Homo sapiens: one gene and its partners. The protein of the gene in region 1 interacts with the protein of each later gene in a pairwise test. Each region holds a gene or a part of one and is shown on either strand. Other genes may lie near its edges. The genes, in order: NME7, ZNF343, ARHGAP9, THAP10, SHTN1, ISY1-RAB43 and PROSER3.

Region 1 (4,255 bases):
TGAACAAGCACAGGTTTCAGCTCACTTTTGTACCTGTTTCTCTGTCCCTTGGTGGGCTCCCTCTACCAGCTTCTTAGGCTTCTCAGTCACTTGTCTGCTTGACTTGAGACTCAGCACATGTCTTACGAGTAAAGACAACGCAATGAATGTTGGTTTCACTTCAATGGGCTTCCTGTCTTTCTGGATCTTGGATCCTCAGATCCTGGCTGCCTTAAAAGCTCTCCAAATCTTTGATATCCTACTTTTCTAGTTGTTCTTAGAAGTAGCATTGGTTTGCTGTGAGCTACTTTGTCATAGCCAGAAGCAACAGTTCCTCAGTTTATTTTCTTTGTATTAAAACTCTTTTCTGGATAGAGTATAGTGCAAAATTCTGCTGCCCAATTCAGAATTAAAGAGTGTGGTTGGCAGGTTTGGTGGATAGGCTACATGGATAAATGGAAGTACCAGGTTTCGTGGATTTTTCATTTGCTTTAGTTAGATGTGTCATTTCTTCTATTTTATATTTATTTTAGTGAAGGCAACATTTCAATTATGTATTTAAATAAATATTTTATTATGGATAGTAAAAATTTTAATAATCTACTAATATTTAAATTTTTATTTGTAGGTGAGTACAATACTAGAATGCACAGTGAAACCTAAACTCAAAAAAGCTGTATTGTTATAATCAATATGAAAAATATATATGATGAAAGGCTTTTACAAATGTCATAGTATGTCTCTTATTTTACATTTATTTTCTCTTGAGTAATCAGCATGGTTTAAATATGTCTTTGGATGATTGTGGGAAAAATAAAAGTGTCTTAAAAATAAAAGTGTCATCTACGTTATAGTTTATGGATATATTATAAACATCATTAGACACACAACTTCTACCATTAGAATTTATAAGTCAATTATTAACTTAAAAAGAACCCCCAAATTTTCCCTAACCAGAGCATCAGATGGCAAATCCAGAATTAGCAATAAAACTCCTAGATTCCCTTCTTCCCTATGCTTTTATTTGCTTATTATAATGAAGATCTTTGGGGCGAGGGTATTTTTACTAACATATATGATGGGAAGTCCTGCTCAATAGTCAAGGGAAAAGGACCCATCTTTGACTTATTTTTTTCATTTTTTGCTCTCTGTGGTAGCCCTAAGAGTGTACTTCACAGACCTCCAACTACAGGCAACCTAAGTGACCAAGGGTCCCAGCTGCTGTTCTCTGAAATCCACTGCTGCTTTTGTGCTGAGCACTTGCTTCCCAAAGGCTGCTCCCAGCCACTGATTGAGAGGAGCAGGGATACTAAAGCTGGCCCCTCCCTGTCCTTGGGAGTCACCTGGCTCTAGCACTTCCTGATGGGCTTACAGAACCTTTCTTAGAGGGTGTAGCAATGTGGGATGATTCCACTTAACCTTCCTTGCATCTCTCCACCACTCTGTGTCAAACTTCTATTGTTTTTATCGGCTTTTCTAGTCTTCCTTGGCTCCCTCATCATTTTATATTACGGGAATTTTCCTTAATGAAATTCTTGTATGTTCAATCTTGTCTTCACATTCATTTTCAGAGGTCCTAGACTAACACATTCTCTATTTCTATAAAAAGATACTATCATATGAAATTACTAAGGAAAAAAAAATGTTTGCTATAATTTTAATGGTAATATTCTGATACTACTAGATTCTCAAATTTAGGGAAGTCAAAACTTCATATAATTGAGAGCTCTCCTCAGAAATTTATTCTTATATTAGTTTATTGATAGTCTGTATGTAAACTTGCTTTCAGAAGGACTGAATTGTTACAATAGTAAAATCAGGAGCTCATGTTCTCAGAAAACGTTAATTTACTCAGGATGATTAGATGGCTGTAAAGTAAAAAGCAATCCATAAGTCATCTTTGAGATATCTAAGGGTATTTAGTGAGAAATTGAAAGGAAATATTGCTGAGGGTGTGTTGATAACTGATACTTTGTTGAAAAGCAGAAACATTCAATATAATAGGTAGAAGTAATTTTGTTTCTTGCATATTGGTAATTTCATTTTGTGTGACTTACAGAAGAGTGCTTGTTCTTTATATGTTAGTGTTAAAATTCTTCTGTCTTTCTTTGCAGAATCATAGTGAAAGATTCGTTTTCATTGCAGAGTGGTATGATCCAAATGCTTCACTTCTTCGACGTTATGAGCTTTTATTTTACCCAGGGGATGGATCTGTTGAAATGGTAAATAAGCCTTTCTTTGCTTGAATGTTGGCAAAGGGGGTGAACATGGGAACCATTGCCTTTTATATAATTGCTTTTTAAAAACACATTTATATGTATGTGTGTGTGTATATATACATATGGAAATTCTTTTTAAACTTATTCATTATAATTCCAATATAAGAAGTTAACTTGTGCCTTTATTTTTAATGTCAAAAATAGGAATTTTTTGTTGTTGTTGTTAGAAGACTGAAGTGGGGGCTGGGCGCGGTGCCTCATGCCTGTAATCCCAGCACTTTGGGAGGCCGACCCAGGCAGATTACTTGAAGTCAGGAGTTCGAGACTAGCCTGGCCAACATGGTGAAAACCCATCTCTACTAAAGATACAAAAAATTAGCCGGGTGTGGTGGCACATGCCTGTAATCCCAGCTACTCGGGAGGCTGAGGCAGGAGAATAGCTTGAACTCAGGAGGTGGAGGTGGCAGTGAGCTGAGATCACGCCACTGCACTCCTGCCTGTCCTGCCTGGGCGACTGCATGAGACTCTTGTCTCAAAAAAAAAAAAAAAAAAAAAAAAAAGACTGAAATGGGATTATTCATGTTTTGGATAAGAAATAAACAAGTGATTATAGATAAGGATTATTATGGTCATAAATACGTCCTCATTATTGAAAGCTGTTATTGCTACAAAAAGTCAAATTGAAGAGGCTCAAGCTAAGAGACTTCTGTTTCTTTGTGTTCTTTCACTGGCAACACAATTTTAACAAGTAGATCTTTTTGGTATTGGGATTTTGTGTACACAAGAAAGCAGAAATTTGGGTGTATGACTCTTTCTTTAGCATTTTGTAAGGACTACTTTGCTGAAATGATTTGGTAATAAACAAATCTTTCTATTCAGGTTTTTAAGAGTATTAAATTTGTAATAAGAAGCTTTTATGTTATTACCAGATTGGATTAGGAAATATGGAAGTTATTAAAAATTATGATTTATATTTGTAACAAAAAAGAAACAGAATATAACCTATCTTTGATAAGACAGAATTAAGAATTATTTCTACCTTATGATGAGATTAACTTTCCTTATTCATAACTTTTTTTGTTTGTTTGTTATATTGTTGTGTCTGGTTCTAGCATGATGTAAAGAATCATCGCACCTTTTTAAAGCGGACCAAATATGATAACCTGCACTTGGAAGATTTATTTATAGGCAACAAAGTGAATGTCTTTTCTCGACAACTGGTATTAATTGACTATGGGGATCAATATACAGCTCGCCAGCTGGGCAGTAGGAAAGAAAAGTAAGAAAACAATTATATAATCTTTTTACATGCTCTAACTTTGGGTTCAAAGTCAATCTGAATCAAGACTGGGAGTATGTAACCATATGAGGATGGATAGGACCTGGAAAATGGTTGTCTTCATTCTTTTTCTTTTTTTCAATTTAAAAAAAAATTGATAATACCATAGTTGTGCATGTCTCATCTGACTTAATTCATGTTTATGTCTCCTGTGGCACTTAGCACATCTCCATCCACATTGCAAGCACCTTGTCTGTATTAGCTGAACGAATTAATGAATCACAATTTAAAATCTATGATCTATTCTTTCCTTTTTCCACTTTCTCCCTGTTTTCAAATGATGATCTTTGATCTAGTTGACCAGGAGGTTTTTGCCTAGATTGTTTGTAACTAATGCTGCCTATTGTCAAGTTTTGTTAACAGATATATATATATATATTTATATCTAATAGATGTTGACCAACGGATCAATTGAAAAATGACAATGTGAGTGTTGTAAAAAGGAAAAAAAAAAGAAACCATATAAAGAAATTATGATACAGGGAGACTGATGTATCTTATTCATAACTGTATCCCTAAAAACTGTTGTAGTGATACCTCAAACAGTAAATTATTCACAGAGTGTGACCCACAAAAGTTTGTTAAATATATGAATGAATAAATTTATGTCATCGAAATGTCTGGAGGTACGGTATGTCTAAAGGAAGAGTTTCCCACTGGCTGGCATCCCCGCCTCCCTATCTTCCTCCCACTGCATGTGGCTCTTTCTGTGAGAGAA
Region 2 (4,255 bases), on another chromosome or scaffold:
CTAGAACAAGGAGTGGAAAATGACTACCCACAAGCTAAATCCAGTCCTCTGTTTTTGTATCACCTACAAGCTAAGAATGGTTTTTACATTTTTAAATGGCTAGAAAAAAGTAAAAAGAGTAGTAATATTTCATGATACATAAACATTATATTAAATTCAAATTTCAGTGTCTATAAAGAAAGTTTTATTGGAACATATCAATGCTCATCCGTTCACATACTGTTTATGGCTGCAACTCAATGGCAAGTTAAGGGTTGTTACAGAGGGCTTATCACCTGTAAAAACAGTTATTGTTTGGCCCTTTACAGAAAAAGTTGGCCAACCCCTGATCTAGAGTTATGTTGCAATTGATAACATTTATCAACCCAGATTTAAATATTTTTTTATTTTTTTTTATTTTTTCAGACTGAGTTTCACTCTGTCACCAGGCTGGAGTGCAACGGCACAATCTCGGCTCACTGCAACCTCTGACTCCCTGGTTCAAGTGATTCTCCTGCCTCAGGCTCCCAAGTAGCTGAGATTACAGGCACATGCCACCATGCTCAGCTAATTTTTGTATTTTTAGTAGAGATGGGATTTCACTATGTTGGCCAGGATGGTCTCGATCTCCTGACCTCGTTTAGGTTTGTAAACAAATGAAAAAGAAAAAAACATAGTTTATGAAACCCCCAAACCACAATAAACTTGACTCTTAATTTTAACTTATGTCACAGAGCTGCATCTCTCCCCCTTGCAAACCATGCCCCCAGCCTTGCTTGCCTCCTTGCAGCTTCATATACTGGGCAGGTACATCCCTTCATTAAGGTCTTCGTGTCAATAATTCCCTTCACCTGAAATGCTCTTACACTAGATACCTACAGTTCTAACCTCCTCACCACATTATGTCTTTAGACAAATATTACTTCTTCACTGATTTCAAATACCCAGTTTTAAACTTCAGCCAGCCACCCTATCACACCCAATACCCCTTTATCCTGCCTTATTTCATTATTTTTTACTATGTTGCACTTATCACCTTTTAACATACCATATTATAATATCCCTGTATATGAGGCTTTTTGTTTGTTGTCTGTCTCCTTACACTAGAAAGTAAGCCCCATGGAGGCAGGGATTACGATTTTGTTTACTAATGTGTTGTAAGTATCTAGAACATTTTTTTGTGGTACATATTAGGTGATCAGTAAATCTCTACTGAATTAATGAAGGAAAGGAAAGAACACAGCCTTACCCAATGAGAGAAGATTCCTGTAATTCTCCAGCATCACTTCTTTGTATAGATTCCTCTGCTCTGGACTCAGTCTCTTCCATTCTGCTTCTGTGAAGATCACAGTCACATCCCTGAATGTAACTGGTACCTACAAACAACCAGTAAATTAATGTATAGCAAGCCACCATCAATCTTCCCTGTGTGTGGAGCACAGCTGGTGACCCTGGAGAGCCTGGATATGCAAGTTGATGTAATTCGTCAGAATATATGGTTCTCCATATGAAGTTCTTCTGAGCACTACTGTCTGCCTGGCTTTCTGTTAAAACCTGTGAGGAGCATAACTGAGCACAGAACACATTCTAGGCCCTTGACATATATGATTTCACCGGAGAAATGATTTGTGAATTAATTTGTAAACCTCAGGCTGTGTTTAAGACAGTGACTTTGAGGATTCATAATGAAGGAATTCAGAGATGAAACAGCAGAGAATGGGCTGCAGAAGGAACAAAAGCATCATGGACTTGGGGCTTGTGCTGGGCAGTAGGGAGTGGTAAAGATTTAGAGGAGAGAATGGAAGAAAACTTGGATTACAGAGAAAAATGGGAGTGAACAGATGGGGTCTGGAATGAGCATTTTTTAAAAGCTCAGGTTACTAAATGGGATCTGTAAAATCCCTGTCTTTGCTATGTGCTTTGACAACTTTTTTCAAGAAAGCCTAATGCTTCACTCATCTACCCAGATGTTGACCGCCTTTTCCTTTCCCAAGAAAGAGAATATATGTCTATTCTCTGGAAAATGAGCCAGCACTTCAGGAAAAAAAAAAAATGTAACCCCAACTCACCACTATTTGGGCCTTTCCCTCCTTTTTCTGGGGGCAGTCAGTATCATTAGAAGGCAAGCCTAGGGAAAGAAAAAGAAGCTATGAGAAACCAGACCCCCCCACCCCCCACCCCCCACCATGACGCTCCCTGAGCAGCTCTTCTGAGCCTTAGGATGAAGGAAGTAGTCACTTAACTCAGAGGTGACCTCTGAAGCATTTTCAGGTGAACCTGGAGCCTTGGCTTCCTCTTCATCCCTCCGGCTCCCTCAACAATTCTCACCTTTCGCTTTATGATTTTGGGTCAATTTCTTCATAGTCTCTACATTTTCCCCATTCTTTGGAAGCAAAATCTCTTCCCAGTATTGATCTCCCAGTGCTGAAGGATAAGGCAACATCATGGCGCCAGAGTCAGCCCAGTGTGTGCCTTGAAATTCTGCCAGAGGTCCAGGTAGATGTTATTTCATCTCAAGATGGAGTTCTGCTGCCTGTGGTGACTTCTTCCAACCTTAATTATAAAAAGCCCAGCTTGTTTCCCTGCAGCCAGGACCTGTGGGATGAAGAAGCAATTTGCTATTGCTGGGGCTTTTATTGTGGGCCCTAGGCCTATGCCTCTTCAACAGGGATCCTGTCCTCTCACACCCTCCTCATTCAACAAACACGGAGTCTCCATCTACATGGGATCCCTGGATTTTCTACCTTCATTCACTCTACCTTCATTTCTAGGCCCTCCTGCTTGTGTTCTGCCACTCTCCCTTAGCTCTCAAACTTTACTTCTTCTGCCTCTGCACCTCAGATTCAAACTCTATGTTTTGGATCAGTCTCTGCTACTACCTGAAGCCTGAGTCAGAGAGAAGACAGAATATAGCATAATGCCTGTGGAGAAAGAGCCTCTGACTGTTTCCTGTAGACCAACTGGGGCGTGCAGAACTCAGCTTCTGATTCCCCTGCCCCAACCCAAGGTTCCATCTATATTCAGTTCCTTGTGTCTTGGATGGGCACAGTGGTTCACACCTGTAATCTCAGTACTTTGGGAGGCCACGGCAAGCTAATCACTTAAGCTCAGGAGCTCAAGACCAGTCTGGGCAACATAGCGAAATGCCGTCTCTACAAAAAATACAAAAATCAGCTGGGCATGGTGGTGTGCGCCTGTAGTCCCAGCTACTCAGCAGGCTGAGGTGGGAGGATCACCTGACCTCGGGAAGTCGAGGCTGCAGTGAGCTGAGATCATGCCATTGCACTCTAGCCTGGACGGCAGGAGTAAGACCCTGTCTCAAGAAAAAAAAAAAAAATCCCTATGTCCCTGTATTGTGAGGAGTTTAGGAGATCAAAACTCAGTCCTTCTTAGTTAAGGGAGAGCTCCAGTTCTCACAATTACTCTGAAGAGATAACCTCCTAGCTTCCATTGCTATGCATGTCTACCACATGACCTTACCACAGATGTGCATTTGTGTATCCTGATGGGCCCAAGTCAAAGTCCTACACTGATGTGGTCCCAAAGAAGGCAGGTGGTATTAGGAGCTATGCCACCTTCAAAAGCTCCTCAGACGCTGTCCAGGATTTCAGCCCAAATGGCTACAGGCCTATTGTTGCCTAGTACCCTTCTGAGACTAGCTGGGGTCTCTAAGCAGCTCTTGTAATTCATCCCTCAACACCATAGGTAGAGATGACCACTCCCTCTTCTGTCCAACCTGGCCATCATACCATATTGCAATTTCTCTATTTACGTGACTGTCTTTACTAAACTGTGAAGCTTCTTGTAAGATGAAATGCTTCTCAGTCTTTTTGCTAATATAATTCTAGTGATTAGAATAAAAGAGGCCTTTGTGGTAGATTTTATCATCGTTCCCAATTATTTGTTGCCCTATAAAAGGATGGTACTTCCCTGTCCCAGACATCAGGCTTGACCTTGTAACTTGCCTTGGAAAATGAATGTGAGTGAAAGCGACGATGCCATTTCTAAGCATTGCATAATTCCACCATTTCTTTTGTTCTGAGAACAGCATGTCCGAAGAGGGACTGTGGTTCTACTGTAAAAAGTCATGGTACAAAGCTAAAGCCAACCTATAGTACCTGCAGTATAACGTAGCTGAAGCTGACAAAGCCTTTCTCCTAGTAACACTAGTATCTGTAGCTAACAGTTATAAAGCAAGATCTGTACTAAGTGCAGACTTTTTTTTTTCTTTTTTCTTTTTTTTTTTTTTGAGACAGAGTCTCACCCTGTTGCCCAG
Region 3 (3,304 bases), on another chromosome or scaffold:
ATCTCCCATTTCTTTGTGAAGGCCAAGATCCTCCCTGCCCCCCCTCCCCCCTTTTCCTGCTCCACATAAACATCTTCCTCTTTCTGAATATCCTCCTACCCAGCCCTCCCCCAGCAACTTTAAGGGACTTCACTCCTGGGAGACCCCCTAGGGAAAGCCGTGGCCACTATGGAGGGCGAGGGTGACTTACAGATCCCATTCCCTCCACTTCCCAGGAGGTGGAAAAGTCGGGTCTGCTCAACATGACCAAGATTGCCCAAGGGGGGCGCAAGCTCAGGTGAGAACCCAGAATACAGCTAGGGCCTGGGCTGTCAACTCCATAGGGTAGAGCAGGGTGTTGGAAGAGCACCCTCCTCGTGTCATTCTAGAATGACCTGTTCGCTACCACTACCTCCCCTCTCTGTCCCCGCAGGAAGAACTGGGGCCCGTCTTGGGTGGTGTTAACGGGTAACAGCCTGGTGTTCTACCGAGAGCCACCGCCGACAGCGCCCTCCTCAGGCTGGGTGAGTGTGAGCGAGAGGCGCAGGATGGGTGCGGGCGCTGCCTACCGCCTCACGCCAATGTGGGGGCGGCAGCGGGGAGGGCGGTGCAGAGGAAAGTAAAGAAGTGAGGAAGCCTCCCACCTCCTCACAGCCCACCGGGGAGAGGGAAGCAGTGAAGGAAACAACACCGTGGCCTCAGTTTCCTCCCTCATTGTCAGGGACCAGCGGGTAGCCGGCCCGAAAGTAGCGTGGACCTGCGCGGGGCGGCCCTGGCGCACGGCCGCCACCTGTCCAGCCGCCGCAACGTCCTGCACGTGAGCGCCCTCCCGCGCGTCCCCAAGGCCCCACCCGACCCGAGGGCGCCCCCAATCTCCCGCGCAGGCCTCCCGCTAGGTCTCCCTGCTTATTATACTCCTTCCCGTTGACCCGAGCGTTTCCTTGCCTGGCCCTCAGATCCGCACGATCCCTGGCCACGAGTTCCTGCTGCAGTCGGACCACGAGACAGAGCTGCGAGCCTGGCACCGCGCGCTGCGGACTGTCATCGAGCGGCTGGTTAGATGGGTGGAGGCCCGGAGGGAGGCTCCGACCGGCCGGGACCAAGGGAGTGGGGTAGGAACGATAGGAGTCAGGAGCAGTTGGGGGCAGGGTGGGCTCAGTGGAGAGCCCTTGCCTGGGCCGGGATGTGGGACCCCGGCAGTGGGTCAGAGTCCAGCTAGGGATACAGATTTCTCTCCTCTCTCACCTTCGACACGGCCCGCCCCGGGTCTAGGATCGGGAGAACCCCCTGGAGCTGCGTCTGTCGGGCTCTGGACCCGCGGAGCTGAGCGCCGGGGAGGACGAAGAAGAGGAGTCGGAGCTGGTGTCCAAGCCGCTGCTGCGCCTCAGCAGCCGCCGGAGCTCCAGTGAGGCGCGGGCTGGGGAGGGAGAGTCCGGGAGCGCAGCGAGGCTCCCGGGCGCTCACGCCCCGCTCTACCTGCCTCCTGCAGTTCGGGGGCCCGAAGGCACCGAGCAGAACCGCGTGCGCAACAAACTAAAGCGGCTCATCGCGAAGAGACCGCCCTTACAAAGCCTGCAGGAGCGGGGTCTGCTCCGAGGTGAGGGGGCTGGGCCAGGTTCATGGATAAGAAAACTCCAGCGAGGCTCAGAGTAGAGCTTCCCAGAACTAGACCACAACCTTCTGTGACTGCTGCTTTCCCACTACCCCAGATTGTTTAGGGGAGAAGCTGGGGTGACCTGTACCCCTTTGCCAGATTGTTTGAAGCAGGGGAAGGGAGGTGGAGTGTATTTCCTTGCCCAGGCCTGGCACAGGCAGCCAGGAGGACCAGCCTCACTTAAGGATAAAGACCTATGCTGAGAAGAGCTCCTGTGAGTGACGCTGGCACTGGCTTCCCGCCTCACTCTACTTCCCCAGACCAGGTGTTCGGCTGCCAGTTGGAATCACTCTGCCAGCGGGAAGGAGACACGGTGCCCAGCTTTTTGCGGCTCTGCATTGCTGCTGTGGATAAAAGAGGTCATTTTCTCAGAGACCCCAGAATCCTCTTCCAACAGGCTAAGGCCTAGAATTTTCTGCCTCCCCCATTCTACCTAGTCTTCCTACTGCCCTTTTTCTCTCCACCCTTATATCCCTCACCACACACACTTTCAAGCAGCAGTCCTTATCTACTCCTTCCTCATCTCCCAGGTCTAGATGTGGATGGCATTTATCGGGTGAGCGGGAACTTGGCAGTGGTCCAGAAGCTTCGCTTTCTGGTGGACAGAGGTGAGAAGGCTTGTGGGCCAGTGGTTGTACTAAGAATGTCTTGCCTGAGAACCATGGGCGGTCCTACATGAGGAAGCTGGCAGAATAGAGAGGCCGTCAGGCTGGAAGTGTATGTCTTAGCTCCTGATCTCTCCTCATTCATGTTGCAGAGCGTGCGGTCACCTCCGATGGGAGGTATGTGTTCCCAGAACAGCCAGGACAAGGTACTTACATGGAAGACCCTTCAGATCCCTAAAACTTCCACATATCCTCTTTGCTTCCCGTGGAAACCCCCATGTACTATTCCTGGGAGGGTTGTCCTCATCCCCACCTTAGCTACCTTGCCCCACTGCAGACCCTCTAGGCATTCCTATAGTCTGCTTTGACTGGATTTCTCCAGAACTTCTAATCTCTCAGTCTCTAAATCTTTCTGGCCCTTCATGAGCCCCTATACCTCCTTCTCCCTCCAGAAGGTCGGTTAGATTTGGACAGTACTGAGTGGGATGACATTCATGTGGTCACCGGAGCCCTGAAGCTTTTTCTCCGGGAGCTGCCCCAGCCTCTGGTGCCACCACTGCTGCTGCCCCATTTCCGTGCTGCCCTTGGTAAGGGTTGGAGCTTTGGAAAGAACCCTTGATGTGGGGGACACGGGTGGTAAATAATAGAATAGAGGTTCCCTTATACTCTTCTTTCCCATTCTGACTTTAGAGATGGAAAATAATGTTCAACTCAGGTGCCTACTCCAGTTGCTTTTTTGTGAATGTTTAGAGGGCTGAATTGAAAAGAATTATGAGGCTATAGTTGGGCTATGTGAAAAAGAAAGCTGTGCTAGATTAATGATGTCTTCCATGCCTGTGGGAAAGAGCAGTGCATTTACCCATCCTGTCCTAGCACCTTCCCTAACCTTACTACCATGCCTTTCCCATCACTCTCTCTAGCACTCTCCGAATCAGAGCAGTGCCTCTCTCAGATACAAGAATTAATAGGCTCAATGCCAAAGCCCAACCATGACACTCTACGGTACCTCCTGGAGCATTTATGCAGGTCAGGAAGACAGAACCTCTTTGTTCATGCTGGGGAAAGG
Region 4 (3,500 bases), on another chromosome or scaffold:
GTCCCTATATCACCCCATATCCAGCCCCTCCCCTCTCCTCAAAGGTAACCAAGTTTGCTTTTTTTTGGGGGGGGGATTTCATATAAATCAAATCATACTGTAGCCATTTTCTGTGTCTGGCTTCTTTTGTTCAACATTACATTTTTGAGATTCATCCATATTGTTGCATAGAACAGTAGTTCATTTTCATTATTATGTAGTATTCCATTGTATGAATATACCAAAATTTGTCTGTCTATTGTTGAACATTTGGGTTTTTACCCATTGGGGCTATCATAAGTGATACTACCATAAACTCTTGTATATGTGTTTTGGTCCACGTGTGCACACATTTCTGAGGATATATACCTAGAATTGCTGGGTCATAGTATTACATTAAACTTCAGTAGATAATACCAAATAGTTTTCTAAAATACTTGTACCAATTTACACTTCTACCACAAGTTTGATAGTTTCCATTGTTCCACATTCTTGCCTATACGTGGGATTTCTAGTCTTTCACATCTGAGTCCATTTGCAGAGTGCGTAGTAATGTTTTTGCTTTTCATCCCCCGATTACTGATGAAATTAGTAAGGAAACACCTTTTCAAATATTAATTGGATATTTAGGTAGCCTTCAGTGACATGCCCTTTTAAATCTAGCCCATTTTTCTGTTGGATTGTCTGTCTTTTCTTGTTGATTTAGAATTTTTAATAGATTCTACCTGGAAGTCCTTTTTCAGTTAAATGTTTTTATCTTCTCCCACTATGGGTTGCCTCTTGGTTCTTAATAATGTCTTTTGATGTACTGAAGTTCTTAATTCTGATGTAGTCCAAATTACCAATAATTTTCCTTATTCTTAATACTTAAAACATTTTACTATGCTGTTTGTAATAAACTTTGTTGTTTTTACTTTTTATATTTAGATCTAATTCAGAATTGATTTTTGTGTTTGGTGTGAGGTAGGATTTAAGTTTCATTTTCCCCAACATTGATACCCATTTGACTCAGCATCTTTTATTGAAACTACTAGCATTTCTTCTTGGCCTTGCAATGTCAACTTTGTCATAAATCAAGTGCCCTTTATATGCATAGGTCTGTTTCCACATACTTTATTCTGTTTCACTTATCTGTTTGCCTAAGCAAAAGTATCACAGTGTCTTATATAGCTTTATTAAGAATATTCAATTGATTAATACCTCTTACCTTGTTCATGTTTGTGGATATTTTGACTATGTTGGGCTCTTTAGATTTCTAGATACATTTCAGAATTGATTTGTCAATTTTCACAAGTTACTCACGAGGATTTTGATTATGACTCCATGGAATTCATAAATGAATATGGGAATAAATGGCATATTGACAATATTGACTCTTCTAATCCATGAACATATATCTCCATTTATTTGGGTTTTTAAATTTTTCTTAGAAGTGTTTTGTGGCATTTGATGTAGAGGTCTTACATATCTTTCATTAGATTTATTCACAGCTATTTGATTTTGCTACTATAAATGGTATTTTAAATTTTATAATCTATAAGTGCATATTGATAAATTAATTTTTGTTGAACTTGTATCCAAAAACCTTGTTAAACTCACTTATTAATTTCAATAGTTTATAAATTCTCTTGAATTTTATACATGTACAAAAATATCATCTGAGAAAAGCGTTTGATATTCGTGTTTTTATTTCGTATTCTTCCTGTTGCACTGGCTTGAATGTCCAGTACAGTGTGGGAACAGAAGAGGTGAGGGGAATCCTTTTCTCATTCCTAATTTCAGAGGGAAAGCCTTTAATATTTCCCCATTTGATTATGATTTTTACTATAGTTTTTTATAGCTCTCTTTGTAATAAAAAGAAATGTTCCCCTTTATTTCTAGTTTAGATTATAAATAATGGTGAATTTTATCAAATGGTTGTTCTGAATCTATTAAGGATAACATTTTTATTATGTTAATATAGTAAATTATATTGATTGGTTTTAAAATGTAGAGTCAAACTTGCATGGCTAAAATAAACTCAATTTGGTCAAAGTGTTTTATTCCTTTCTCATATTGCTTAATAAAATATTAGCTAAAATAAAATATTTAGGATTTTTGTATCTGTGTGCACGAGTGAAACTGTTCTACAGTTTTTTTCTTTCTTGGAATGCCTTTCTCAGGTTTGGTATGAAGATTATGCCAACAGATTTGGAATTGTTCCTTCTTTTTTCATTCTCTGGAAATGTTTATATAAAATGGCATATATCCATTAATAAATTTGGTATTAATATTTGGTAGAACTCATTGATAAGACAGGAGTTTTCCTTTTGGAAAGGTTTTTTATGATGGATTCAATTTCTTTGTTATAAGGTTATTCAGAGTTCTTTTGTTTATCCATTTTGATAAATAGTATTTTGTTTATCCATTTTGATTAATAGTATTTTTTAATTTGTCTGTTCCATCTAAATTTTTAAATGTATTGACACAAAACCTTCATGATAATCTTGTATTTGAAAAAAATTCTGTTTGAGCTGAGGTAATTTTTGCTTTTTCATTTTTTCTTGATCAGCTTCACCAGATGGTTTATCGATTTTTTTTTTTCTTTTTTAGACAGAGGCTCACTCTGTCACACAGGCTGGAGTGCAGTGGCGCAATCTCAGCTCACTACAACCTCTGCCACCCGGGTTCAAGCGATTCTCCTGTCTCAGCCTCCCGAGTAGCTGGGATTACAGGTGCCTGCCACCGCACCCAGCTAATTTTTGTATTTTTAGTAGTGATGGGGTTTCACCATCTTGGCCAGGCTGGTCTTGAACTCCTGACCTCGTGACCCACCTGCCTTAGCCTCCCAAAGTGCTGGGATTACAGGCGTGAGCCACCGCACCCCACCGGTTTATCAATTTTTATTAGTCTTTCCAAAGAACAAACTTTGCCTTGTTGATCTCTCTAGAATTTTTTTTTCATTTATTTCACTTATTCATTATTCCCTTCCTCTGCTTTTTAAAATTTTGTCCACTGCTCTGTCTTTAACTTCTTAAGAAGTTAAATTATATCATTGATTTTCAGAATTTTTATGGTGAATGTTAAATGGTGCAGCTAAGTTTCACAAGCTTATTTCACAAATGTAGAATTCAGTAAAGTGGTGTTGATAGAGGAAAATCTGGGTCCTGAGAGGGGGCTATGTTAGAGATATTTTGTGGAATACCTTTTGCATGATATTAATAATTCTAACCTAAATTAAGCCCAATTAATTTTCCTATCCTAATATATGCATTAAAGATTATAAGTCCCCACCTAACATGGCTTTACTGAATCTTACAAGTTTTAGGTATGCAGTATTTTTATTATTTAGTATAAAATATCTAATTTCCATTGTGATTTTATCTTTTATTCGTGGGTTAATTAGAAGTATATTTTTTAATTCCCGTATCTCTGGGCATTTTTTAGTTAAATTTTTGCAATAGATTTCTAGGTCAATTACACTACTGCCAGAGAAAATGCAATATATGGACTTAATTTTTTGAAATTTGTTGAAACTTGTA
Region 5 (4,255 bases), on another chromosome or scaffold:
CTTATGATAGGGTTATGTCCTGATAAACCCACGTTAGTTGAAAATATTGTAAATCAAAAATAATATACCTAACCTACTGAATATTATAGTTCAGCCTAGCCTACCTTAAACATACTCGGAACACTTAACATTAGCCTACAATTGGGCAGAGTCAACTGGAAATACAGTATACTCTAGAGCATCAATCCCCAATCTTTTTGGCACTAGGGACCAGTTTCGTGGAAGACAATTTTTCCATGGACTGGGGAGGGAAGAGGGTGGGGGATGGTTTTGGGATGAAACTGTACCACCTCAGATCATCAGGCATTAGATTATCATAAAGAGCGGCCAACCTGGATCCCTCGCGTGTGCAGTTCACAATAGGGTTCGCGGTTCTGTGACAGTCTGTTGCCGCTGCTGATCTGACGAGGTGGAGCTCAGGCGGTAATGCTTGCTCGTGCCTGCTGCTAACCTTCTGTGCAGCCTGGTTCCTAACAGGCCATGGACCAGTACCAGTCCAAGACCTGGGGGTTGGGGAACCCTGCTCTAGAGTATCAGTTATTTACTCGCATGATCATGTGACTGATTGGGAGCTGTGGCTGGCTGCCGCTGCAGAGGATTGTTGAGAGAGTATCTTATTACATATTGCGAGCCTGGGAAAAGATCAAAATCCAGAATTTGAAGTATGGTTTGTATTGAATGCATGTCGCTTTCACACCATTGTAAAGTCGAAAAACTATCTCAAACCATCCTAAATTGGGGACCATCTGTATGTCGCTTAAAATGTTTCTTAGCTGTCTGTAAGTTCCCTTGCAGATGCAGCAGTCTTTTAAGCACAGCATATGGTTTTTGCAATTATAAAAATAGCATATGCTCCTTATAATACATTTTTAAAATACAGCAAAAGTTAAAGAAGATTAACCAAGTATCCCATATTTTGGTGCATAGCTGAACTTTCTGTAAATATATACCTTTATAAATATAGTTTGTTTAAATTGAATCATACTATGCATACTATTTTATGCCTTGATTTTTTTTCCATTGGTAATATATCTTCTCATGTCAGTATATAGTAAGCTATGTGATTTAAAAGTTGCATAGTATTTCATTGAATAAACATGCTATAATTTATTAAACTAAAAATATTGGTGGACATTTAGGTTATTTGCAACTTTTTGCTGTTGTAAAGAATACTTCAGGCCAGGTGTGGTGGCTCACGCCTGTAATCTCAGCACCTTGGGAGGCCAAAGCAGGTGGATCACTTAAGGCCAGGAGTTCGAAACCAGCCTGGCCAATGTGGTGAAACCCTGTCTCTACTAAAAATACAAAAATTAGCCGGGTGTGGTGACATGTGCCTGTAGCCCCAGCTACTCAGGAGGCTGAAGCACAAGAATTGTTTGAACCCAGGAGGCGAAGTTTGCAGTGAGCCCAGATCGCGCCACTGCACTCCAGCCTGGCCGAAAGAGTGAGACTCTATCTCAGAACAAAAACAAAAACAAAAACGAAACAAAACAAAAAACCACTTCAGTGAATATATTTCAGAGTATTTTAAAAAATAATTTCTAAAAATGGTTTTACTGAATCGAAAGCCTTTCCTTTTTTTTTTTTTTTGAAGACTTTTGATACTTATTACTAAATTTGTGTCCCCCAGGAGTCTTTTAAAATATTACCTGAATTTTTCTTTTGAAAATGGGTACAAAAGTGACCCATGTTTAAAAATTAAAGTGTCTGTGTGACTAACAAGCATATAAAAAATGCTTAACATCACTAATCATTAGAGAAATGAAAATCAAAACCACAATGAGATACCATCTCATGTCAGTCAGAATAGCTGTTACTAAAAAGTCAAAAAATAGCAGATGTTGGCAAGGTTTCAGAGAAATGGGACGCTTAAACACTGCTGGTGGGAATGTAAGTTAGTTCAGCCATTATGGAAGGCAGTGTGGCGATTTCTCAAAGAACTTAACACAGAAATACCATTCAACCCAACAGTCCCATTATTGGATATATGCCCAAAGGAATATAAATCATTCTACCATAAAGACACGTGCACACATATTCATCGCAGCACTATATGCAACAGCAAAGTCATGGAGTCAACCTCAATGCCCATCCGTGGTAGACTGGATAAAGAAAATCTGGTACATATTACACCATGGAATACGGTGTAGCCATAAAAAGGAATGAGATAATGTCCTTTGTAGCAACATGAATGGAACTGGAGGCCATAATCCTAAGTGAACTAACATGGGAATAGAAAACCAAATGTTCTCACTTCTAAGTGGGAGCTAAGCATTGATTACACACGGACACAAAGAAGGGAACAACAGACACTGGGGCTTACTTGATGATGGAGGGTGGGAGGAGAGAGAGGATCGAAAAAGTATCTATCAGGTACTATTCTTTTTACCTTGGTGATGAAACAACCTGTACACCAAGCCCCTGTGACACACAATTTACCTATATAACAACCATGCACATGTACCCCGAACCTAAAATAAAACTTAAAAAAAATTAAAGTGTCTGGTACGTAACTCCCCAGTAAATTTATTTTAAATCAGCTCTTTAGCTGATTTATGATTGTGTGTTAATTGTATCTAGCATTTGCATGGTTGTTAAGATGGATTGGAATCTGTTTGCTATGAAGTACAGTCAAAGGGAAATATTTATTTTTTCCCTTTCTTTTCTTTGACAAAGGAAAAACTGTCAGCCATAAAAGTCTTTTTTTTTTAAATAACTTATAGGTCAAAGAATTAGAAGAGCAACTAGAAAATGAAACACTCCACAAAGAAATACACAACCTCAAACAGCAACTGGAGCTTCTAGAGGAAGATAAAAAGGAATTGGAATTGAAATATCAGAATTCTGAAGAGAAAGCCAGAAATTTAAAGCACTCTGGTAAAAGCATTGAGTAGGCTACTATGTCTTACTATTAATCTTTGAATTACTCATGCCTAGTACAAAACCTGGCATATAGTTAGTCTAGAACATTTACTGAATGCTGTGGAAAAATACCAAGATTTGTTTTGAAATTCCTTAATTTCTAACCATTGCAATTCAGTAGAATAGCTGCTGTATTAAATAATTCAAAAATATTTAGACTAATTTTTTGGACTTAGAGCCCTTGTGAACATCATATACAGAATTTAGACACAGAGATACCGTTAGCCTAGGAAGACCAACTTTTCAGCATTTTTCAGAGCTTCAGAGATGAATGTTCATTATGTACTTTATTTTGTTCACTTAGAGTGCATTTTTAGAAAGAATTAAACTTTTTAAAAATACTGTCTTCATCTTTGGTGTTCATACTACCTTCATCTTTGGTGTCTAATAATACACATGAAATAATACTTTCTATATTGTACCTAACAATGAACTGGGCAACAATATATCTATTAAATGGAAAATCTTTAGAAACACCAGGGGATACTTAAATCAAAAGATTTATTCATTCAGTTCTAGAAGGCTTAACGGGAATGTGCGAGTTAGATTACTATACGGGCATATGTGTAAGTCTCTGTTGGAAGGTCGGTAATTTAAGAAGTCAGGTACATTCCCTTTATAATAGCTTCAATATTCACTTCAGATATTTTTGGTTAATTTTATACTAGAATTTTGAAACCTATGCAGAAGAACCATGTAGGCCTTTTTTCCTTCTAAAAGCATTCAGTGCTTTCTAATCCACAATGAAAATTGATTATAATTTATTTTTTAATTGATCCAAAATTAAGAAGTATTTCATTCTTTTTAGTGAATATCAGAGTAGCCTGTAGCCAAAGCCATCTTTATTATGAATAGAGGAGGCAGACACTGGAAATATATAAGGTTCAAATCTGAATGCCTTCTATTAATACTTATTATCTGCTGTGTGTGTACCCAGCCCTATCCTAGGAAACAATAAGAAATACAGAAGAAAAGAAACCATGCTTTTTGTCTTCAGAGAACTCAGATTCCCCTTGGAGGGATAGGTGCATGCACATAAAAAGACTAGAGGATTCTCAGTTTTGGAGAGCATAGCCCACACTGCCTATTTAAGTGTTGAGGGTAAATACAAATGGACAGATCCCTGAGGGTACACTCAGTCGGGGAAAGTGGAATGGCTGTGGATGGGGAGAGCTACCTCTGAGTGCCAACAGTATGCAGCACCTTTTACCCATTATCTCATAGGTATTAGCACCTGTGATATCAACTTAAGTTCAGTTCTTTGAAGTCAGGTGTTACGTCTCCTGTAGCACCATTCATAGGCACTTTCACATCATTGGTGCTTAGTAAAATG
Region 6 (4,255 bases), on another chromosome or scaffold:
CCAAGCTGGGTCAGCTGGTGGAAACTGCCTTGTACTTAAAGGCCCCATGGGAGGACTCTGCCCATTGCCACCACCAGTCACCCTTCCCACAGTCCTCATCACCAAGCTGTAGAGTCCTGAGGGAACCCTAATGCTGGAGGAGCCTCACACACAGCTGGGTACGTGATGCTCTTGTAGGGGAGGGTACCTGGCCGTGCCTACTGCTGGCCGTGCAGTGCACCTGGAGCCAGCTTTCCAGCCGCCGGCCGCTTGAGCACTGGTGGTTCTGTTTTCGCAGCAGTGGGCCCAGTCCTGAGGGGAGAGGGGCACACGGAGGGGCACGCGGAGGACCTGGGTCAGCTCAGAGTGTACCCCTTCCTCCATCTTTCCCTGGGGACCCTAGAGGGCCAGGACAGGGGCTGCTCACCTTCCCTTTGCTTCCCCATTTTTCCAACAAGGTTGAGCCATTGAGTTGCTTTCTAAGGACTCAGAAGGCCTCCTAGCCCAGTGGAACCACAGCTCTGGGTGTGGGTCTGTGGGGTCACTCTGCCTGTCCCCATGTTCAGCCTGTGCCACTGGGTTCACTGAGGAACCTTATTTCTTTAGCTGCAGATCTGGGACACGGCCGGCCAGGAGCGGTTCCGCACCATCACCCAGAGCTACTACCGCAGTGCCAATGGGGCCATCCTTGCCTACGACATCACCAAGAGGAGCTCCTTCCTGTCGGTGCCTCACTGGATTGAGGATGTGAGGAAGTATGCGGGCTCCAACATTGTGCAGCTGCTGATCGGTGAGTTGGGGATTCCTCGGGACCACAAATCCCATCACTCTGCCTGTCCATGCCTCCCTCTGCTTTTTAAACACAGTGTAACCCTGAGTTCAGAGGGAGTCCCAGCCAGAGTTTGAGCCATGGTTTTGCAAATCCTGATCCTGCTAATCACTTAGAAAGTTACATTCAAGGCCGGGCACGGTGGCTCACGCCTGTAGTCCCAGCACTTTGGGAGGCTGAGGCGGGCGGATCACAAGGTCAGGAGATCGAGATCATCCTGGCTAACACAGTGAAACCTCGTCTCTACTAAAAAAATAAAAAAAAATTAGCCGGTTGTGGTGGCAGGCGCCTGTAGTCCCAGCTGCTGGGGAGGCTGAGGCAGGAGAATGGCATGAACCTGGGAGGCGGAGCTTGCAGTGAGCTGAGATCACGCCACTGCACTCCAACCTGGGTGACAGAGCAAGATTCGTCTCAAAAAAAAAAAAAAAAAAAAAAAAAAAAGAAAGTTATATTCAAAATTGGAATTAGAGGAAAGAAGAAAGAGAGCTGAAGTTTGCTCTGCTGTTCTTCACATGTGTCAAGATTTAGCTCTTGTACCCCGGCTTCTCCTCATTTGACAGGGGCTGGGGCTAGGCTCAGAAAAGTGCAGTGATTTATCCGGGTCCACATGGCCTGTGAGCATACACATGTAGGCTTTGAGTTTGCTTCTGCTGACCTCAAGTCTGTGGCTTTCTCTGTTGTGCCGCACACAGAGCAGGGACACTTGATGGCTTCCGTGCCTCAGAATCCCACAGAAGTCTTCTTCAAGTGCAGCTGCAGGGCCTCAACCTCCAGAGCATCTGATCCAGGCGGGCTGGGTGGGGCCCATGAATGTGCGTTTCTAACAAATTCCCAAGTGACACCCACCTTGCTGGTCCAAGGATCCCACTTTGAGAACTGCTGCTGTGGAAGGATGCTGTTTACCTTTGTTTTCCTTCTATATAACCTTCCCAGACCTGGACTGGAGAAGCTCTTTAGCTCTTATGTTATCCCTGGGGTCCTCACCCCAACAGGTTGATTCTTTTTTTTGAGACAGAGTCTTACTCAGTCACCCAGGCTGGAGTGCCGTGGCGTGATCTTGGTTCTGCAAGATCTGCAAAACCACTGCAACCTCTGTCTCCCTGGTTCAAGCGATTCTCCTGCTTCAGCCTCCCGAGTAGCTGGGCCAACAGGTTGATTCTTCTGACTCAAATGTACAGACAGGGCCTGGACCTGACTCCAGCCAGGAAGAGGGTGGTGCCTGGTTCCATGTGGCCTGCCTTCCACAGCCTGTTCAGACTAGGACATGGAGTGCTTGGCATGAACAGAGCTTTCCTCACGTAGCCTAACCATTTCCCCACCTTTTCTTGCTGGGGGTGGGGGACGGAGTCTCGCTCTGTCGCCAGGCTGGAGTGCAGTGGCACGATCTTGGCTTACTGCAACCTCCGCCTCCCGGGTTCAAGCAATTCTCCTGCCTCAGCCTCCTGAGTAGCTGGGACTACAGGCACGCACCACCACACCTGGCTAACTTTTGTATTTTTAGTAGAGACTGGGTTTCACCATGTTGGCCAGGATGGTCTCGATCTCCTGACCTCGTGATCCACCCGTCTCGACCTCTAAAAGTGCTGGGATTACAGGTGTGAGCCACCACACCCAGCCACCAATTCCCATTTATCCAGGACATTTCTGAAAAACATTCCAGCCTGGCATGGTGGCTCACACCTGTAATCCTAACACTGAGAGGCTGAGGTGGGTGGATTGCCTGAGTTCAGGAGTTCAAGACCAGCCTGGGCAACATGGTGAAACCCCATCTCTACTAAAAATACAAAAATTAGCCAGGCATGGTGGCACACACCTGTAATCCCAGCTACTGCGGAGGCCAAGGTAGGAGAATCGCTTGAACCTGGGAGGCGGAGATTGTAGTGAGCCGAGATCGTGCCACTGTCCTCCAGCCTATGCGACAGAGTAAGACTCTGTCTTCCAAAAAATAATTAATTAAAAAACATTCTATTATAGAACTTTTTTTTTTTTTTGAGACAGAGTCTCACCCTGTCGCCCAGACTGGAGTGCAGTGGCGCGATCTCGGCTCATGGCAAGCTCTGCCTCCTGGGTTCACACCATTCTCCTGCCTCAGCCTCCCGAGTAGCTGGGACCACAGGCGCCCGCCACCATGCCTGGCTAATTTTTTGTATTTTTAGTAGAGACGGGGTTTCACCATGTTAGCCAGGATGGTCTCGATTTCCTGACCTCGTGATCCACCCGCCTCAGCCTCCCAAAGTGCTGGGATTACAGGCGTGAGCCACCGCGCCCGGCCTATAGAACATTTTATACAGCTATGAAAATAGTATTTTATCTATTTATTTATGCATACTTATATACATACATATATTTTTAGAGATGCAGTCCTGCTATGTTGCCCAGGCTGATCTTGAACTCCTGGCCTCAAGCAATCCTCCTGCCTCAACCTCCAAGTAGTTGGAATTACAGGTGTGAGCCACTATATCTGGCTTAGAATAGTATAATAATGAGCCCCCAGGTACCCATTACCCTGCTTCAGCAATTAGCAACTGAAGTCCAACCTCCTCTCATCTGTACCATGTCACCTCCCCTCCCTCGGATTATTGAGACAAATTCACATCAAACCATTTCACCTGGCAGTATTCCAGCATGAACCTACAAAATATTTAAACACTTAAAAACAGCAATATTATTTTCTCATCTAAAAATACTGACATTTCCTTAATAATATAAAATAGCCAGTCTGTATTCAGATTTATAATTGCCCATAAAATTCATATGTGTTTTATTTTTTCCAGTTTGTTGAGATCAGGATCCAAATAAGTTTCACACTTTGAAACTGGTTGCTACATCAATTAAGGTTACCAAGGAAATTTTAGATCTTTACAGACTTTTTTTTTTTTTTTTTTTTTATGACGGAGTTTCGCTCTTGTTGCCCAGGCTGGAGTACAGTGGCACAATCTCGGCTCACTGCAACCTCCGCTTGCCACTCCTGCCTCAGGCACCCGAGTAGCTGGGATTACAGGCCCCCGCCACCACGCCTAGCTAATTTTTTGTATTTTTTTTAAGTAGAGACGGGGTTTCATCATGTTGGCCAGGCTGGTCTTGAACTTCCAACCTCAGGTGATCCACCCACCTCGGCCTTCCCAAATGCTGGGATTACAAGCATGAGCCACTGCGCTTGGCCCAGACTCTTTTTTTTTTTGTCTTCCTTATAACCACATTACAAAAGTCAACCATGTAGAGACTTTTAAAAAATTATTCTAGAAATTGGGTCAAGGAGCAATTTAACAGATTGTTTGGAATGTAATGAAGTCATCTCATACCATCTAGGAGGATCTGGGTAAATTGAGACGGGGTCTCACTGTGTTGCCCAGGCTGGTCTTGAATTCCTGGGCTCAAGCAGTCTTCCTGCCTTAGCTTCCCAAAGTGTTGGGATTACAGGCGTGAGCCACTGCACCCGGCCTAAAA
Region 7 (4,255 bases), on another chromosome or scaffold:
GTCCCAAATTAATTATGGCTGAAACAAGATAGAATTTATTCCTCCCTCACCTGCAGTCCAGGCAGAAGCCACCAGGGATGATGTGGCAACCCGTAGTTGAGGTGTCAGGGACACAGGTTACTTCTGTCTTGTTGCTGTCCGAACTCTAGGCCGTTGCCCTTTCCTTCATGGTGCAAAATGGCTTTCAACCACATCAGCTTTCCAAAATCACATTTCATACCCTGTTTGTCAAGAACTTAGTCACGTGGTCACAAGGCTACAAGGGTACCTGGTAAATATAGTCCATAGGAGACTGGCTGTGTGCCCAGCTAAAAGTTACATTCCTGGCTGGGCACAGTGACTCATTCCTGTAATCCCAGCACTTTGGGAAGCCAAAGTGGCAGGATCCCTTAAGCCCAGGAGTTCCTGACCAGCCTGGGCAACATGGCAAGACCCCGTTTCTACTAAAAATACAAAAATTGGCAGGGCTGCAGTGGCTCACGCCTGTAATTCCAGCACTTTGGGAGGCCAAAGTGGGTGGATCACCTGAGATCAGGAGTTTGAGACCAGCCTGACCAACATGGTGAAACTCCGTCTCTACCAAATTAGCCGGGCGTGGTGGTGCATGCCTGTAATCCCAGTGACTTGGGAGGCTGAGGCAGAAGAATCACTTGAACCAGGAGGCAGAGGTTGCAGTGAGCCAAGATCACGCCATTGCACTCTAACCTGGGCAACAAGAGCAAAACTCCGTCTCAAAAAATAAACTAATTAATTACAAATAAATAAATAAATAAAAATACAAAAAGTAGCCGAGTGTGGTGGCATGCACCTGTGTCCCAGCTACCCAGGAGGCTGAGGAGAGAGGATTTCTTGAGCCCAGGAGTTGGGGGCTGCAGTGAGCTATGATTGCACCACTGCCCTCCAGCCTGGGTGACAGAGCGAGACCCTGTCTCAAAAACAGTTATGTGACTATATAAGAAAGAAAAGCAGATATTGAGGGATAGCTACCAGGCTCTGCCATGGTGCTTGGTAAACGTTGGCTGCTATAATTATTCTTATTATTATTTGGCTCTCCTCACTCCACTCACCTCCTATCCCCTGATGTTCACAGGTATATAAACAGGTTCCGCCAGGCTCAGCCCACCAGTCGAGAGGAGCGCCAGCCTGCAGGCCCAACCCCAGCTGACTTTTGGTGGCTGCAGTCTGACTCTCCAGACCCCAGCAGTCAAAGTGCAGCAGGTACCTCTTTCAGTGCCATCCACTACTCCCACCCCTAAACCTTTGCTGATCAATGCCCCCAGCAGCCACTCCTCCTGGCCCTCATACCTCAACTGGGGCTTCTCAGCAGGAGCCAACAAACCAGAAGGAAGACCCCATACAGCTGTCCCTACTGCGGTCAACGTGACCAGTGCATCCCATGCTGTGGCTCCCCTTCAGGAAATAAAGCAGGTGACATCCCCATTCACTCCCTCCCTTGGGTGCCTGAACTGACAACACCAGCCCTAGGACAGAATTAGAAGATCAGGAGCAGTGGCTCACACCTGTAATCCCAGCACTTTGGGAGGCCAAGGTGAGAGGACTGCTTGAGGCCAGGAGTTCAAGACCAGCTTGGGTGACATGGTGAGATTCTGCCTCTACTAAAAAAAAAAAAAAAAAGAGAGAGAGAGAGAGAACCAGGTGTGGTGGTATGTACCTGTAATCCCAGCTACTTGAGAGCCTGAGGCTGGAGGATGGCTTGAGCCTAGGAGTTCAAGGCTGCTGTGAGCTATGATCATGCCACTGCACTCCAGCCTGGGCAGTAGAGCAAGACCCTGTCTCTATTTAAAAAAAAAAAAAAAAAAAAAGCCTGGGCACCGTGGCTCATGCCTATAATCCCAGCACTTTGGTAGGCTGAGGCAGGCAGATCACGAGGTCAGGAGTTCAGGACCAGCCTGACCAACATGGTGAAACCCCGTCTCTACTAAAAATACAAAAATTAGCCGGGCGTGGTGGTACACACCTGTAATCCCAGCTACTCAGGAGCCTGAGGCAGGAGAATTGCTTGAACCCGGGAGACGGAGGTTGCAGTGAGCCAAGATAGCGCCAGCGCACTCCAGCCTGGCGACAGCAAGACTCCATCTCAAAAAAAAAAAAAAAAGAATTAGAGCTGATCCCCATTTCAAGGAAGCTAAAACAGAAAAGGAGGATTTGCTGGCTAATGTAATTGAGAAATCCAAAAGTAGATGTTTCCAGATATGCCTGGATCCAGGTGTTTGAATAATGTTGGGAGAGACCCAACTCTCTCTGGGCTCCATGCCCCCCCTTTTTTTTTTGATACAGAGTCTTGCTCTGTCACCCAGGCTGGGGTACAGTGGCGCCATCTCAGCTCACTGCAACCTCCGCCTCTCGGGGTCAAGCAATTCTTCTGCCTCAGCCTCCTGAGTAGCTGGGACTACAGGTGCATGCCACCACACCCAGCTAATTTTTTTGTATTTTTTTAGTAGAGATGGGATTTCACCGTGTTGCCCAGGCTTGTCTCGAACTCCTGACCTCCGGCAATCCGCCCACCTCAGCCTCCCAAAGTGCTAGGATTATAGGCGTGAACCACCAAGCCCGGCCTTTTTTTTTTTTTTTTGAGACGGAGTCTTGTGCTGTCATCCAGGCTGGAGTGCAGTGGCGCGATCTCGGCTCACTGCAAACCCCGCCTCCCAGGTTCACGCCATTCTCCTGCCTCAGCCTCCCGAGTAGCTGGGACTACAGGTGCCTGCCACCACGCCCGGCTAATTTTTTTTTGTATTTTTAGTAGAGATGGGGTTTCACCATGTTAGCCAGGATGGTCTCCATCTCCTGACCTTGTGATCCACCCACCTCGGCCTCCCAAAGTGCTAGGATTACAGGCATGAGCCACCGCGCCCGGCCTTCTTTTTTTTTTTTTTTAATTAGATAGGGTCTTACTCTTAGGCTGGAGTGCAGTGGCACAATCATGGCTCACTGCAGCCTTGAACTCTTTGCAACCTTCGCCTCCTGAGTACCTGGGACTACAGCATGCGCCACCATGCCCAGCTAATTTTTTGGTTTTTTTGTAGAGATGGGATCTTACTTTGTTGTCGAGGCTGGTCTCGAAGTCCTGGGCTCAAGCAATCTTCCTGCCTCGGCCTCCTAAAGTGCTGGGATTGCAGGCGTGAGCCACCACGCCCGCCTCTGTGCTTCTCTTTTTTTGGGCTCAGTCCCAGGCGGGCTTTCCCCTCACAATAGCCAGGATGGTCCTTGGGGTCTCTAGGCTCCCATGGTCCTGGCTCAGTGACTCCAGTGGGAAGTGGGGGCTTTTCGAATTGCTCCATCAGAAGCCCCAGGGCTCACTGTGATTCACTCATCCTTGAGCCAACCACTGTGAACCAGAGGATAGAATGCTCTGATGAAGCAGCTCTGATCTGGGAGGTGGGATCCATCCTCCTCCAACCATGATTTGTCCATGAAAGGTGCTAATCCACCGGGCGCGGTGGCTCACGCCTGTAATCCCAGCACTTTAGGAGACTGAGGTGGGCGGATCACCTGAGGTCGCGAGTTTGAGACCAGCCTGACCAACATGGAGAAGCCCTGTCTCTACTAAAAATACAAAATTAGCCGAGCGTGGTGGCGCATGCCTGTAATCCCAGGTACTTGGGAGGCTGAGGCAGGAGAATTGCTTGAACCCAGGAGATGGAGGTTGCTGTGAGCCGAGATCGTGCCATTGCACTCCAGCCTGGGCAACAAGTGAAATTCAATCTCAAAAAAAAAAAGAAAAAAAAAAAGGTGCTAATCCAAAGGGGAAAACTGGGTCTCTCCTCCCTGAGGAGGAGGAGCAGATCCTAAGCTGGCATGTGAGGTTACCAAGGGCAGTACAACCTGCATTCCAGGCCCTCTGTTTAGAACCCCCTTCCCAGCAGCCTTTGGGTTGGGGCTGGCGTCTGACCCTGTCACCCTGCAGAACCTCCACACATGGAACTCATCCCTGCTGGACCTGGAGACGCTGAGCCTACAGAGCAGAGCTGCCAGGCTGCTCAAACGCAGGTGCCCGCACCCCTGCCCCCATCACCCTTCCTACTGCGGCTCCACGTGGCCCAGGTCTCGAGACCTCCATTGCCTCACTCCTGCCTTCTCCCTGCAGCAAAGCCTCCATCTCCTCCTCCTCCTCCCTCAGCCCCAGCGATGCCAGCACTTCCTCATTCCCCACCAGCTCTGATGGCCTCTCTCCCTTCTCGGAGACCTTCATCCCTGACTCCAGCAAGGGCCTTGGCCCCAGGGCACCCGGTAAGGG

What was found.
Region 2: the proteins of NME7 (region 1) and ZNF343 interact in binary tests that used the Homo sapiens proteins (3 or more experiments, as listed by UniProt).
Region 3: the proteins of NME7 (region 1) and ARHGAP9 interact in binary tests that used the Homo sapiens proteins (3 or more experiments, as listed by UniProt).
Region 4: the proteins of NME7 (region 1) and THAP10 interact in binary tests that used the Homo sapiens proteins (3 or more experiments, as listed by UniProt).
Region 5: the proteins of NME7 (region 1) and SHTN1 interact in binary tests that used the Homo sapiens proteins (3 or more experiments, as listed by UniProt).
Region 6: the proteins of NME7 (region 1) and ISY1-RAB43 interact in binary tests that used the Homo sapiens proteins (3 or more experiments, as listed by UniProt).
Region 7: the proteins of NME7 (region 1) and PROSER3 interact in binary tests that used the Homo sapiens proteins (3 or more experiments, as listed by UniProt).

The regions. Positions count from the first base shown.
Region 1 is NC_000001.11:169,322,339-169,326,593, reverse strand, and holds part of NME7 (nucleoside diphosphate kinase homolog 7), read left to right. Parts: intron 1-2,093; coding exon 2,094-2,201; intron 2,202-3,310; coding exon 3,311-3,477; intron 3,478-4,255. UniProt on the Homo sapiens protein: Possesses an intrinsic kinase activity. Displays 3'-5' exonuclease activity with a preference for single-stranded DNA. Does not seem to have nucleoside diphosphate kinase activity.
Region 2 is NC_000020.11:2,491,471-2,495,725, forward strand, and holds part of ZNF343 (zinc finger protein 343), read right to left. Parts: intron 4,055-4,255; exon of another isoform or gene 3,945-4,054; intron 2,575-3,944; 5' UTR 2,426-2,574; coding exon 2,308-2,425; exon of another isoform or gene 2,281-2,307; coding exon of another isoform or gene 2,223-2,280; intron 2,108-2,222; coding exon 2,049-2,107; intron 1,356-2,048; coding exon 1,229-1,355; intron 615-1,228; coding exon of another isoform or gene 562-614; exon of another isoform or gene 379-561; intron 1-378. UniProt on the Homo sapiens protein: May be involved in transcriptional regulation.
Region 3 is NC_000012.12:57,473,563-57,476,866, reverse strand, and holds part of ARHGAP9 (rho GTPase-activating protein 9), read left to right. Parts: exon of another isoform or gene 1-215; coding exon 216-277; intron 278-412; coding exon 413-503; intron 504-700; coding exon 701-796; intron 797-935; coding exon 936-1,034; coding exon of another isoform or gene 1,035-1,091; intron 1,092-1,251; coding exon 1,252-1,384; intron 1,385-1,468; coding exon 1,469-1,576; intron 1,577-1,893; coding exon 1,894-1,992; intron 1,993-2,163; coding exon 2,164-2,241; intron 2,242-2,390; coding exon 2,391-2,444; intron 2,445-2,690; coding exon 2,691-2,825; intron 2,826-3,158; coding exon 3,159-3,264; intron 3,265-3,304. UniProt on the Homo sapiens protein: GTPase activator for the Rho-type GTPases by converting them to an inactive GDP-bound state. Has a substantial GAP activity toward CDC42 and RAC1 and less toward RHOA. Has a role in regulating adhesion of hematopoietic cells to the extracellular matrix.
Region 4 is NC_000015.10:70,885,934-70,889,433, reverse strand, and holds part of THAP10 (THAP domain-containing protein 10), read left to right. Parts: intron 1-3,500.
Region 5 is NC_000010.11:116,928,471-116,932,725, reverse strand, and holds part of SHTN1 (shootin-1), read left to right. Parts: intron 1-2,723; coding exon 2,724-2,877; intron 2,878-4,255. UniProt on the Homo sapiens protein: Involved in the generation of internal asymmetric signals required for neuronal polarization and neurite outgrowth.
Region 6 is NC_000003.12:129,091,500-129,095,754, reverse strand, and holds part of ISY1-RAB43 (ISY1-RAB43 protein), read left to right. Parts: intron 1-585; coding exon 586-730; coding exon of another isoform or gene 731-769; intron 770-3,161; coding exon of another isoform or gene 3,162-3,241; exon of another isoform or gene 3,242-3,255; intron 3,256-4,255. Other genes in the region: RAB43 (ras-related protein Rab-43), read left to right, coding at 586-769. UniProt on the Homo sapiens protein: Component of the spliceosome C complex required for the selective processing of microRNAs during embryonic stem cell differentiation. Required for the biogenesis of all miRNAs from the pri-miR-17-92 primary transcript except miR-92a.
Region 7 is NC_000019.10:35,760,929-35,765,183, forward strand, and holds part of PROSER3 (proline and serine-rich protein 3), read left to right. Parts: intron 1-1,090; coding exon 1,091-1,218; intron 1,219-1,324; coding exon 1,325-1,428; intron 1,429-3,925; coding exon 3,926-4,008; intron 4,009-4,105; coding exon 4,106-4,248; coding exon of another isoform or gene 4,249-4,255.